2 separate regions of the Homo sapiens genome follow, and region 1 is linked to region 2. The links come from fine-mapping of genetic effects on gene expression. Tissue or cell type: whole blood. Region 2 holds a variant in brackets; the other region holds the start of a gene. All regions are shown on one strand. Distances are from middle to middle.

Evidence for each region. PIP is the estimated chance that this variant, and not a neighbour inherited with it, causes the effect. A credible set is the group of variants that fine-mapping cannot tell apart.
Region 1: FRY starts here. The variant in region 2 is the best candidate, but not a certain one, in a credible set for the expression of FRY in whole blood (TOPMed, PIP 0.83).

The regions. Positions count from the first base shown.
Region 1 is chr13:32,028,602-32,033,987 of GRCh38, forward strand. FRY (FRY microtubule binding protein) reads left to right here and starts at 3,173. Exons shown (of 61, transcript NM_023037.3): 1 at 3,173-3,264. The coding sequence starts at 3,195. FRY-AS1 (FRY antisense RNA 1) reads right to left here and starts at 3,038. Exons shown (of 4, transcript NR_103839.1): 1 at 2,850-3,038.
Region 2 is chr13:32,295,755-32,301,140 of GRCh38, forward strand. FRY (FRY microtubule binding protein) reads left to right here. Exons shown (of 61, transcript NM_023037.3): 61 at 1-3,371. Among named protein-coding and RNA genes, the nearest start is that of ZAR1L, 17 kb to the right of the region's middle. The variant T/C (reference allele first, on the strand shown) is at 3,284.

The sequences.
Region 1 (5,386 bases), 270 kb before region 2:
TTCATTGTATGTTCTCCTAATATTTTTAAGGAAGGATCCCTCATTTTTACAGGTATGAAAGCTGAGATAGCTTTAGGTCCTCTTAAATCATAACTGAAGTCACTAGCAAGCCAGGAACACATTCAGATTTTACTGTTGCATTTTAAAGTACCTCTGTCCAGGTGCCTCTTCTGACTAATTTTTTTATGCCCCCCCAGAGAGAGAGAAGACAAAAGGATAAATGTTTCAACTCAGCTTGCAGCGGGTGTCATTCTATTTGATTTGCAGGCCTTTCAACAAAACAAAAGCCCTTTTCTGTTCTTTTACAATATATGTCCTCTTTAAAGGTACTCGAATGAAGAAAAAGCATACACTGGACAAGATTTCAGGTTCTAAGAGACAGAAACTGGGCTCTTAGATGCTGATTCACTCTTCACAGTGAAAGCTAGATGGCATTGAAAACATTATTTTCTAAGTAGCATTTACATTTTTATGACCGTTTCCCTTGAAATATATATGAGTGGCATTCTCAGCAAGTTAGTATGTTTATAGTAGTTAAATACTGAAAACTTATGTATTTAAGTATTGAAAACTTTAAAAAGCCAGTTAAAAATTTTTTAAAATAAAGTCAACAGAGAGAATCTCTATATATTTGAGTAACAATATACAATAGCATGTTTGCTTATTGCAACTGATTTTAAATGTCTCCAACTTGCTCTCCCCAAATAGTTACCACTGGTGTTCAAAAGTAATATATCTTTTAAACCACATAAAGAGTAAAGAAAAAAAAGTATTTAGCTTTTTAAAAAAAAGTTCTATTCTAGAGTCACTAAGGATTCATAATAAGAATGAATGGGCCAGGCGCAGTGGCTCATGTCTGTACTTTGGGAGACCAAGGCAGGTGGATCACCTGAGGTCAGGAGTTCAAGATCACCCCAGCCAACACTGTGAAACCCTATTTCTACTAAAAATACAAAAATTAGCCGGGCATGGTGGCGCATGCCTGTCACCCCAGCTACTCAGAAGGCTGAGGCAGGAGAATCGCTTGAACCCGGGAGGCAGAGGTTGCAGTGAGCCAAGATTGCACCACTGCATTCCAGCCCAGGCGACAGAGTGAGATTGTCTCAAAAAAAAAAAAAAAAAAAAAATCAATGTAGCTAAAATTTAATGAAGTGTTAACTATGGGCAAGATACTATGCTGAGCCCCTTTCATACATAGTGTTATTTATTGTTTCCAACAACTATAGGAAGAAGGTACAACCCCATTTTACAGATGAGGAAACGAAGGCTTAGCAAAGTTAATAGCTTACTTTGGGGCTCAAAGCTAGTAAGGGCTGGTGCCAGGAGCGAACATGGGGCCCTGCCTTGAGAGCCCATGCCATCGTTAATCGCAGGGCACTGTGCAGCCTACCTGTTCATTCACTGCCATCTGAGTCTTGGCAAGCATCAGATGGGCGTAGGTATGAAATTTATTTTCAGATATAATAATTGTTTCAAGGTAAAACCTTTGGGTCTTATTTTACCTAGAATCCATACATTCAAAGTACAAGTGATAAAATCAGTTCAGCAACTCTAGTATGCACATGAATTAAAAAGAAGTCAATCTGGTGAGAGATTTCATCAGAATAAAGTGTATAAGTGGAGTTGGAAATCTGAGTGATTGAGTGCTTGCCATTTGGGTAAGTGTAATGAGTTTGAAAAACTAATTGTATTGATGAAGTATCTTAGGGCCTTTCAGAACATAGTTCTAGAAGTTTTATTTAGTGTTGAATTTTAAAAATTCTTTGTCCTAACAATAAAAGTACATTGTAGTCTTTCCCTTCCATTTTTAAAATGAACTGTTAATCTAGGAAGTCCTGTTTGTGTGTTGATTTGGGGAGTTAGCCCAACATTTGCTATGTTAAATACTTATTAACATGGTTTATTACTTTTTTCTGTTTTTTAGACAACATTAATCATGAATGTACTGGGACTTGGGAAGGATCCTGTGGTTTATGAGATAGTTGGCCAAATCCCACCTCTTCCAACATAACCTGTCATTATTAAAATATAATACTCTTATTTAATCCCCTGGTCAAGCTAAATGATAATGTGAAACAAAGCTAACCAAAATCAGGACACCTGATATCAAGAATTCATGAAATCAAGAGCCATTGTAGAGCAAGGAATCTAATGCTTTTGCTTCTTATCCTTTTCATACAAATAAAATAAGCTTCACTGGGCTTAGTGAGTCTTAGAAATGAGAGGTTTGAGAATAAGATCCATTGTGGAGTGTGTGACATTACAAAAACAAGCCAACTAAGCAGTGTGTACTGTCCCCTTAGAGTGCACACGTTCGGGCTCCGATGCCCCTTGAAAAGACTGCATTTCTGGGAGGGAAAAGTAAAAATGCAGATACCACCATGCGTGTGGAAGGCAGGGAAGAAAAAGCCCAGACAAGCGTCCTCTTGTTGAGTCTCTTTACTGCAACGAGGCTGACGGATGGGGTTTTTCAAAACGTCGCTGCAACCAGATGCAAGGCTGCAGCTTTGCTTACCGCAGCGTGCTGCAGTTGTGTTTATTTCAGGGACAGACACAAGGGGAAGCAGCAGCCAGAGCACACCCGGGCCGCTCACGGGAAGCCTTGCTGAAGAGAGAGGATCCGCAGAAGCTGGGAAATTCCTCCCGCAGCCTAGGCGGAGACTGAGCCGCGGCTCAGGTTGAGACAGTGGGCAGGGGCAGGGGGCGGCGCTCCCGGCCCATCCCTTAGCCCCGCGGCGGCCGTGTGGGCCGGAGGCTGCCTGCACCGCGTCAGGGAGGCCGGCCTAGAAACCCTCCCTCCCAGAAGAAAGCCGATCCCAGTTCAGGTGGGGTCTTCCTCGGTTGCGTACCTGGCTGGAGCCGAGCTGGTGGGCGGCCGGCAGCCGGCGTTTCTGGTGATGACAGCCCCGAAATGAAAGCAGCGCGGCCGCCGCCTCCGAGGGCTGCAGGGAGATCAGCGTCCAGCAAATAAGAAGCAAGTCCTGGACCCGGAGGAGGAGGAGCGGCCGAGCATCTCTCTCTGCTCCGCCGTGTCCTTTAGATGAGCACTCCCGGCCGGAGCCGGAGGTGGATCCGCAGAGCTGCCTCTGGGCGCCTGACCCCGCGCTGACATCACAACCTGTGACAGGCGCATCACGCCCGGTACCTGCTCCCGGCCGCTGCCCGTCCTCCCAGCCTCTTTGTATGCCGCAGACATGGCCAGCCAGCAGGATTCGGGCTTCTTTGAGATCAGTATCAAATATTTACTGAAATCCTGGAGTAATAGTGAGTAATAGAAAATAACCTTTTTGTTTGTTTGTTTGCTGGATGTTGCATAAGGCTGGAGACAGAAAATCTCAACTGGACACATATGTTTGTGAGCCGCGGAAGTTTTTCTTTTTTTCTTTTCTTTTCTTTTCTCTTTCTTTCTTTCTTTCTTTCTTTTTCTTTCTTTCTTTCTTTCTTTTTTTGCTCCCATCTGCTGTGAAAATCAAAATGTCAGAGACTGAACTAGCTTTCCTTAAGTGCAAAGGCTGCAATGGAATTACAGTAGATTGTGTTTGATTAAATTTTCAAGTGAGGCAGCCCTTCAGACTCTGGGGGAGCTCAGGATCAGGCATTCCTGGCTGCATTTCCTGCCTTGATGTTTATTTGATTTGTTCAGGCTTTCTCTAAATATTTTGTGAAGTGTGATTTAATCAAAGGGGTGTGGCAGGGTTTCAGAGTACTTTGTAATTGTTTTTTTAGGGTATTGTCTGAAGAAAGAAAAGTATTTAATAGTCCAAAACCTAGGACATCCTTTTTGTATATAGAGGCATCTGCAGATTTATTTCATCTCTCCCTCTTCCATGTGGATGATGTTCTGAATGCCATTTAATATTTGAATTTTTAAAAATCCTGATGTTTGCTATAGTCCAAATATTGTGCTTTTTTGAAACATAAACAAGTGAGGTTCTGACCCTAATTATTTATTAGGATAGCAGAATATGATGGCTCCTGAAGTTCCATTTCTGACCTACATAAGGATTTTAGCAATACGCTATTTCAAAAAGACAACCTCTAAGCTGCCGTGGATCTGGAATCAAATTAAAATGAGGCCTTCAGGTGATCAATGATGCCTTGTATTTTCCGAACTGTTTAAAAAGAAAGTCTTCTCTATTTCACTAACAGCCTTTGTACTTGCTTTGGATAAAAGATCAGCAGGTATTACTGATGCTTTATTGTTTTAAATAAAAAAATTTTTTCCCCGTGAAAATTTTAATATTGTATTATGTGCATACTGATTAACCTACCTGTGCTCAAAGAGCTAGTGATTAATTGTCTCCTACACAAATGACCTGTGGCCAAGATTGTTCTTATATAAACAAAACCTGGGCAGGAGAACCTGTGCTGCAATTGCTTTGAGGAAAAGAGCTAAAGTACCTTCAGCCTTAAGGTATTCAGGGATGTGCATCTCTAAATGATATCCATAGAAACCATTTTTTCCAGGTCATTTTGCACCACTGTATACACTATGGGGCTTGTCTGAAGCTGTTTTTCTACAAGTGGGAAGCCATTTGGGAGTAATACTGTTGCCCAAACAGCATTCTTTACTTGTCATAGCTATAAATCATTTAACTTGGACTCATTATTTTTATAATACTTTACACTCAAGGATGAATCTTCCTTTGTCTATCTGCTCTTTGATTAATGAAAAGAATTTGACATACAGTGTTCTTTATGGAGCAGTTTTCCAATAACTGAAAAAACTCACTTTTGAGTTGACATCAGTACGTGGTTTTTAAACATATTTGATTATTCCAAGACCAGACTGTTTTCTTCCATCAATTTTTGTCATTGCATCATTAAATAGAAAATTATGTTGTGACAATACTGAGGCCAATGGGATTTCTTTTAAAAATTTCTCTCCCCTTGTCTATTTTCAAATCACTCTAGATAAAGTATATATTCTCTCCACCCTTCCTAAACTCCTCTCCCCACATACATACTTCAGGAAATGATTCAAAATGACTGTTCATTTCTACTTTGAGAATATCTGTGATACAATTTTGAATTCTTCCAATTCATTCAGCAAATATTTATTGAATACCTACTATGTGCCAGGCTGTGGGGCTACACAAGGTGAATAAGACACAGTCCCTGCCCACTATATTAATTTTTTTATTTCAGAGTAGTGAAGTTGGTGGCTTTCCAGCATTCTTTTGAGGGGGAGAATGTTTTTCAGTCCTTTCTTGAAAGAGGAAGAGGAAATATACTTTGTTTATCTTCTTTAAGCTTGTTACAACACTAACCTGCTTACAATCTAGCATAGTTCTCATTGCTAAGTTTTACATATTTTGAGCAGCAAAGAGAGAAAGGAATTTGTCTGTGTAGAAGGCAAAGTAGAAACAGAAGCCCTAAGGCTCAA
Region 2 (5,386 bases):
ACCAAAGCCGACTACACTGAACAGTACCTTCCTTTCTAGAAACAATTTTAGATTGGCAAAAGTGCAATGTTTTCTTCACTCAAAAAATTTTATATTCTCAAACATGTATATTCTTTCCCTGTCTTGTTCCATTTTCTTTTCTTTTTTCTTTTTTCTTTTTCCTTTCTTTCGTGGGCTGAGAAAGGGGCAGGCAAAATGAAGCTGGCCACTGAAAACTGTAAGATGGTCAAAAGCTGACAGCCTGTGTATGTGAAAAGGGAATTGTAAATGGACTGCAATGTAATGTACACTGTAATTTGAATACAATTACTGTATCTAAAAGGAGCTGCTATGAAGTACCTTTCTTATGTTGCTAGGCTACTGTTTCTGAAAGCCCTGGATCTCTTTGCACCAAAAATGGTCCAGATAGACTCTTTTTAAGGATCTTGGCTGCTTTTTACTAGAAGGTTGCTTTTATGAGCATATTTATACTGCTGAAGGATGAGTGTTAATTTTAATTAACTTTGCCGTTTTGTAGAGAAAACTATTCACAAGATAAATTCCAAGTCTTTTCACCTGTCAGGCATGCATATTTTAATATCTGTTTGGATAGTCAGAAGTAGAATCATAAAGGTAAAATATGAGTTGTTACTTTGTTTCTTCGATGTCATATTTTATGTGTAATATATATGTAAAGGGCCATTCTTAAGTTCTCTCCTTAAACTTAATGCTGTCAAGTGTTAGATGTGTGCATGTGAACTTGTTGCACTGCAGAAACATATTCAGAGTTTATCTATGTAACTTATTCACTCTGTAAATACATTTAAAGTTTTTGTGATGTAAGCTTAATTGATATTCTGTTCAGAACTTTCTTTAGACTAAAAAAAAAAAAAAAGACAAAATACACGTTGACCATGGACTTTATTTCTGGTTAATGAAAATGTTTGTCCTGGGCACACATGAAGTTTTGCATGTGGGTTGCCAAAGTAATAACCCCAAGGGGCACCCCTCGCATGTATGATCTGAATGGCACCCGTGGGGGTCATGCCATGCATGGCCCTGTGAAGCTGGAGGTAAGTATTATCTCTTTGGAAGTTGGCATCAAAACTGTGAGCTTCAACCAATTCTCTGTAATCAACCAAAGAGAAAAATCAGAAAAAAGTGAGAGCTCTAATTCTCCATAACCTATAATTAGGTTGTCATCCTTCAAATTTGGAAGTTAATTCTATAGTGAGCAGGAAAAAGTAGTAGAGTTGTAATTCTGTCACCAACACCTATCCCCCAGGAACACAGGGAGAAACATGTAACAATCTCATTTATGCCGTCTTTCTACTCATATTTTACATGGACCAACAAATATAGCTTGCTTTACTAGCATATGGCTACTGAATCATTGGCAGTAATATTCTAGGAGTATTCTATAGAAGAGAGCCTAACCTAGGATTTTTTTTAAATCCTAGTAGTTGCTACAGATGCAACTACTAGATTTTAATAATTTTCTGGACTGCTGAAAACATATTTTTCTGATGATTTATTTTTTTCAACTTGCCTGAAAGATGATTTGCTATGATTTGTAGAAACAACTGAATCATGATCTCTCTGAAAAATATCATAAAATAAAGGTTTCTGTGGCTAACCACAGTAGACAACTTTCAGAGAGTTTTGTTGGGAGCCACAGTAGAAAGAACAGATTCGTCATGAACTGAGTTTTCTACCATGGCTTCTTACCCAGCAGAGAACCACCGTGATGGTTTACTCTTAAAAAGGGAAGGAAAAAAAAAAAGGATTTCAACAGTACATTACAATCCAAGATATTAACATAGGAAGCAGTGGTCTGTGTTTTTCTCAATTTTATTTTTAAAAGGAGATGTATTAATGTGAAAGGTTTCTTCTACTTTTCCTCTATCTCTTCACCTCCTCTACTTTAAGTGGAGATGGGAAAAATTGTGTAGGATGCAGCCCCACGCCAGCAGAGCCCAGCAATAACTTTAGATCTACCAGTCAAATCTTGTCGGCTATTGCTCTGTGCCTCTGTTACAGAAGCATTAATGTTAATTGCCTTCCCCAGGGATACAAAGAAGTAGAAGTACCAAAGGAAAGGGTAGATATTTAACAGATGCCTCAGTGATAAGAAAGATGCCTCCTTGTGTCTCACTGTTTTCTAGCACTGAAACATGATACACTTTGTATCCACCTGCAGAATAAAGCAATCCAGACAGGCGCTCTGTAACTTAGACATCACTTGATTAAAATTATAGTCTCCAAATATAGTGTTTTAGAAAAGGCACTGCACATTTTTAGAGGCACGTGAATGTCATTCCCACCTCTAACCCATCTAACATCGGTGAGATGTTAAGAAAATGTGCCGATGTTACTGTGAAATAAAGATGCCTGTAATTAATTGTAGGCATCACACACATGCGTGAACATCCAGAGTTAGGTCTCAAGGCTCTTCTGGTTCTAAGTCCTAACAAACAATGATCTTTTCAGTGAACTGTAGAATTCTGGAAAGAATAAGCGTACCTCCAGGCTGCTTACATCAATAGCTTACACGTGCTTCCTGATGCCTGCCTTAACAACAAAAAATTCGTGTCCATAGGTGAGTATTAGGGTATGTTCATTGTATCTCAATGAAACTAGTTTTTAAAGTTTTCAATGCATTTGTTTGAGATCAATTAATATTTGGATACCTATCATGACCCAGGATATTTCTTTGTTCAGCAAATATTTATTGCATGCCCACTCTGGGCTAGGCACTGTTTTAGAGGACACCGCAGCTATCAAGGCAGATGTGGTCCCTGTTCCCATGAGGCTCCTACATTTGAGTGGAGGAAGATGTACTTGTCTACGTTGGGTGATGATTAGTGCCATGAAGAACAAAACGGATACAGTGAGTAATGTGGACAGGGCTATCTTAGCTATCACTCTAATAAGGTGATATCTGAGGAGAGATCTGAATGAAGTGAGGATACAATGGATATCCAAGGAAAAGAGCATTCCAGCAAAGGAAAAAACACATGCAGAGACCCTGAAGGAGAAGCAGGGTCACTTTGTCAAAGGGACAGCAAGGAAGCCAATGACCGGGTGAAATGAGTGAAGAGAGCGTTCAGAGAGGACAGCCAAAAGCTCTGTGGGCCACGGCAGGACTTTGTCCCTTGCTGAGCAAGATGGGAAGCCACTGAATGTTTGCGGGCAGGGTAGTGACATGCTGTGACTTATGTTTAAAAGGATTACTCCTTCATAGCGATGAAGAAAAGCTCTATAACAAAAGTTCCGTTGTGGTGGTTATACAGCATTGTGAATG[T/C]ACTTAATGCCAATGAATTGTGTACTTTAAAATGGTAAATTTTATGTTATATATGTTTTACCACAATAAAAATAATTTTTTTAAAGGATCATTCTGGCTGCTATGTGCAGAATAGACTGCAGATGGGCAGAGGTAGAAGCAGGAAGACTAGAGAGATGGCTGTGGCAACAGTGCAGTCACCAGGCGATGCTGGCTTGGGCTAGGGTACTAGCAAGGGATATGATTAGTTGTGGGCATATTCTGGAAATAGTTCAGAGCTAGAGCTGACAGGGCTTACCAATGACACGTGGAATGGGAGAGAGTTTAGCCCAAACAGCTGGAGGAATGGAGTTTCCACTAACTGAGATGCGGGAATGCATGTTTGGGAGATAGAAACCAAGATTTATTCTTCAGACATGTTAACTTTGAGATGTCTGATATCCAAGACAAGATGGTGAGTAAACAGGTGGATGTGTGAGTCTGTTGTTGAGGAGCAAAGTCTGGGCTAAAGACACACATATGGCATTTAAAGCCCCTGAGAAAAAAGTAGGATACTCCCCTGTCTTGTCCAGCCGGGACTGGGATCTCTCATAAAAATTAGAGTGTAGGTAATGGGCTCAAAATTTCAGATGCACATTAAATCATGTCAGGGACTTAAAACCCCAACGCTCAGCCTTCGTCTTAATTGATGTAATTGGTCTGAAGCTGTGCTCAAACTCCAGTGCTGTTTAAGTTTCCCCAGATGATTCTAATCCACTGCCAAGATTGGAACATTGCTTTCTCCTTTCTAGACCTAAGAGTCACCCCAGGGTATTTGTCAAAAATGCAGAATCCCTCAGGTTGACCCCTCTGGAGACCAGTTTGGTAAATCCAGCGCAGGATCCCTCAAATCAGCATTGTAACAGCCACTCCACTTTGAAAGACACTGAACTAGGAGAAACTTCCTATATAGCGAAGTGCTCTTTCTTCTAAAGCACACCCCCAGTTGTTTTTCCACGTAGGCTGTTGGTGTAGTAATTCTACCCAAATCTGTCATTGATCTTTTTGTAACTTTGTTTCCTATTTGAGGTCACAGTGAGTGAGTGACTAGAATTTACTGCATCCACTTACAGATCAGTTTCCTGGCAGATGCCTCCTTCTCTGTCACCATCTTCTGTAATCCAGATCCTTCTTTTAACAGCAAACTTGAATAGATATTGTATTCAATTTTCAGATTCCAAGAACTTGGGCCACCTGGTGCGAACTTCCAGGAGCTCCTCGGCCAGGAGAACAAAGAGATTCCTCCCGGTCCCCTTTACTATGTCCAACCCTTCTCTCCTCATCTCTATTTCGAAAAGCCCAGAGACTTTGAAATTCTTGCCACCTGGCTGTACTAGCCACTTCCTTCCCCAACTCCATCACTGTCATCCACAGCAGTGGCTGTGACCCTCAGCTGCATTAGAAGCACTGGGGAAGCTTTTTAAAAATTCTGAGGCTTGGGCCCCCCTCCGGATCCCGTAAATCCTTTCTAACGCTCCTCTGATGATTTTGAATTGCAACCGCGCTTGGGAACTGGTGACCTAAAGCCCTCCTGCTTCCTGCCCCTTATTCATCGGAGAGACTAGAGCTTCTTGCTCACCCCAGCTTCCGATGTCGTTTCCAGGACTTCAGGAGTCTTGTGTATAACCTGTATGAAATCTTTTCCCTCTCATCCTGTTAACATTCTTACCTCCAGGCATTTTCACTCTTTTCTACCTTAGCCACCCAATTTCCTGGCTATACCAAAACCTGATCCATAGCAGTAAGTGAACCAGCTCCAGAATCCCACCTTCAGGCCCCCTACTCAGGAATTTTCCCAGTTCCCCTTTACTCCAGCCCCCACCCCTCTGACAATTCTCCCATCATGAATATCAGTCTGTGGCCCTCACAGGTCTTTACTCTTCTTTGGAGCATGTTTAAATTCCATGGGTCATTATAATCCCTCTCTTGCTGACATTCACAAGGGATGCCCTACCCCTGTCTTACTCAGCTGGTTAAACCCCAAGCCTGGCTGAACCTAAAACTGACTCTTCCCACACCTGCACCAGAAGTGTGACATTAGTAGGATGAAGATATTACTAGAATGCAAGTCACACATGTAGTGTC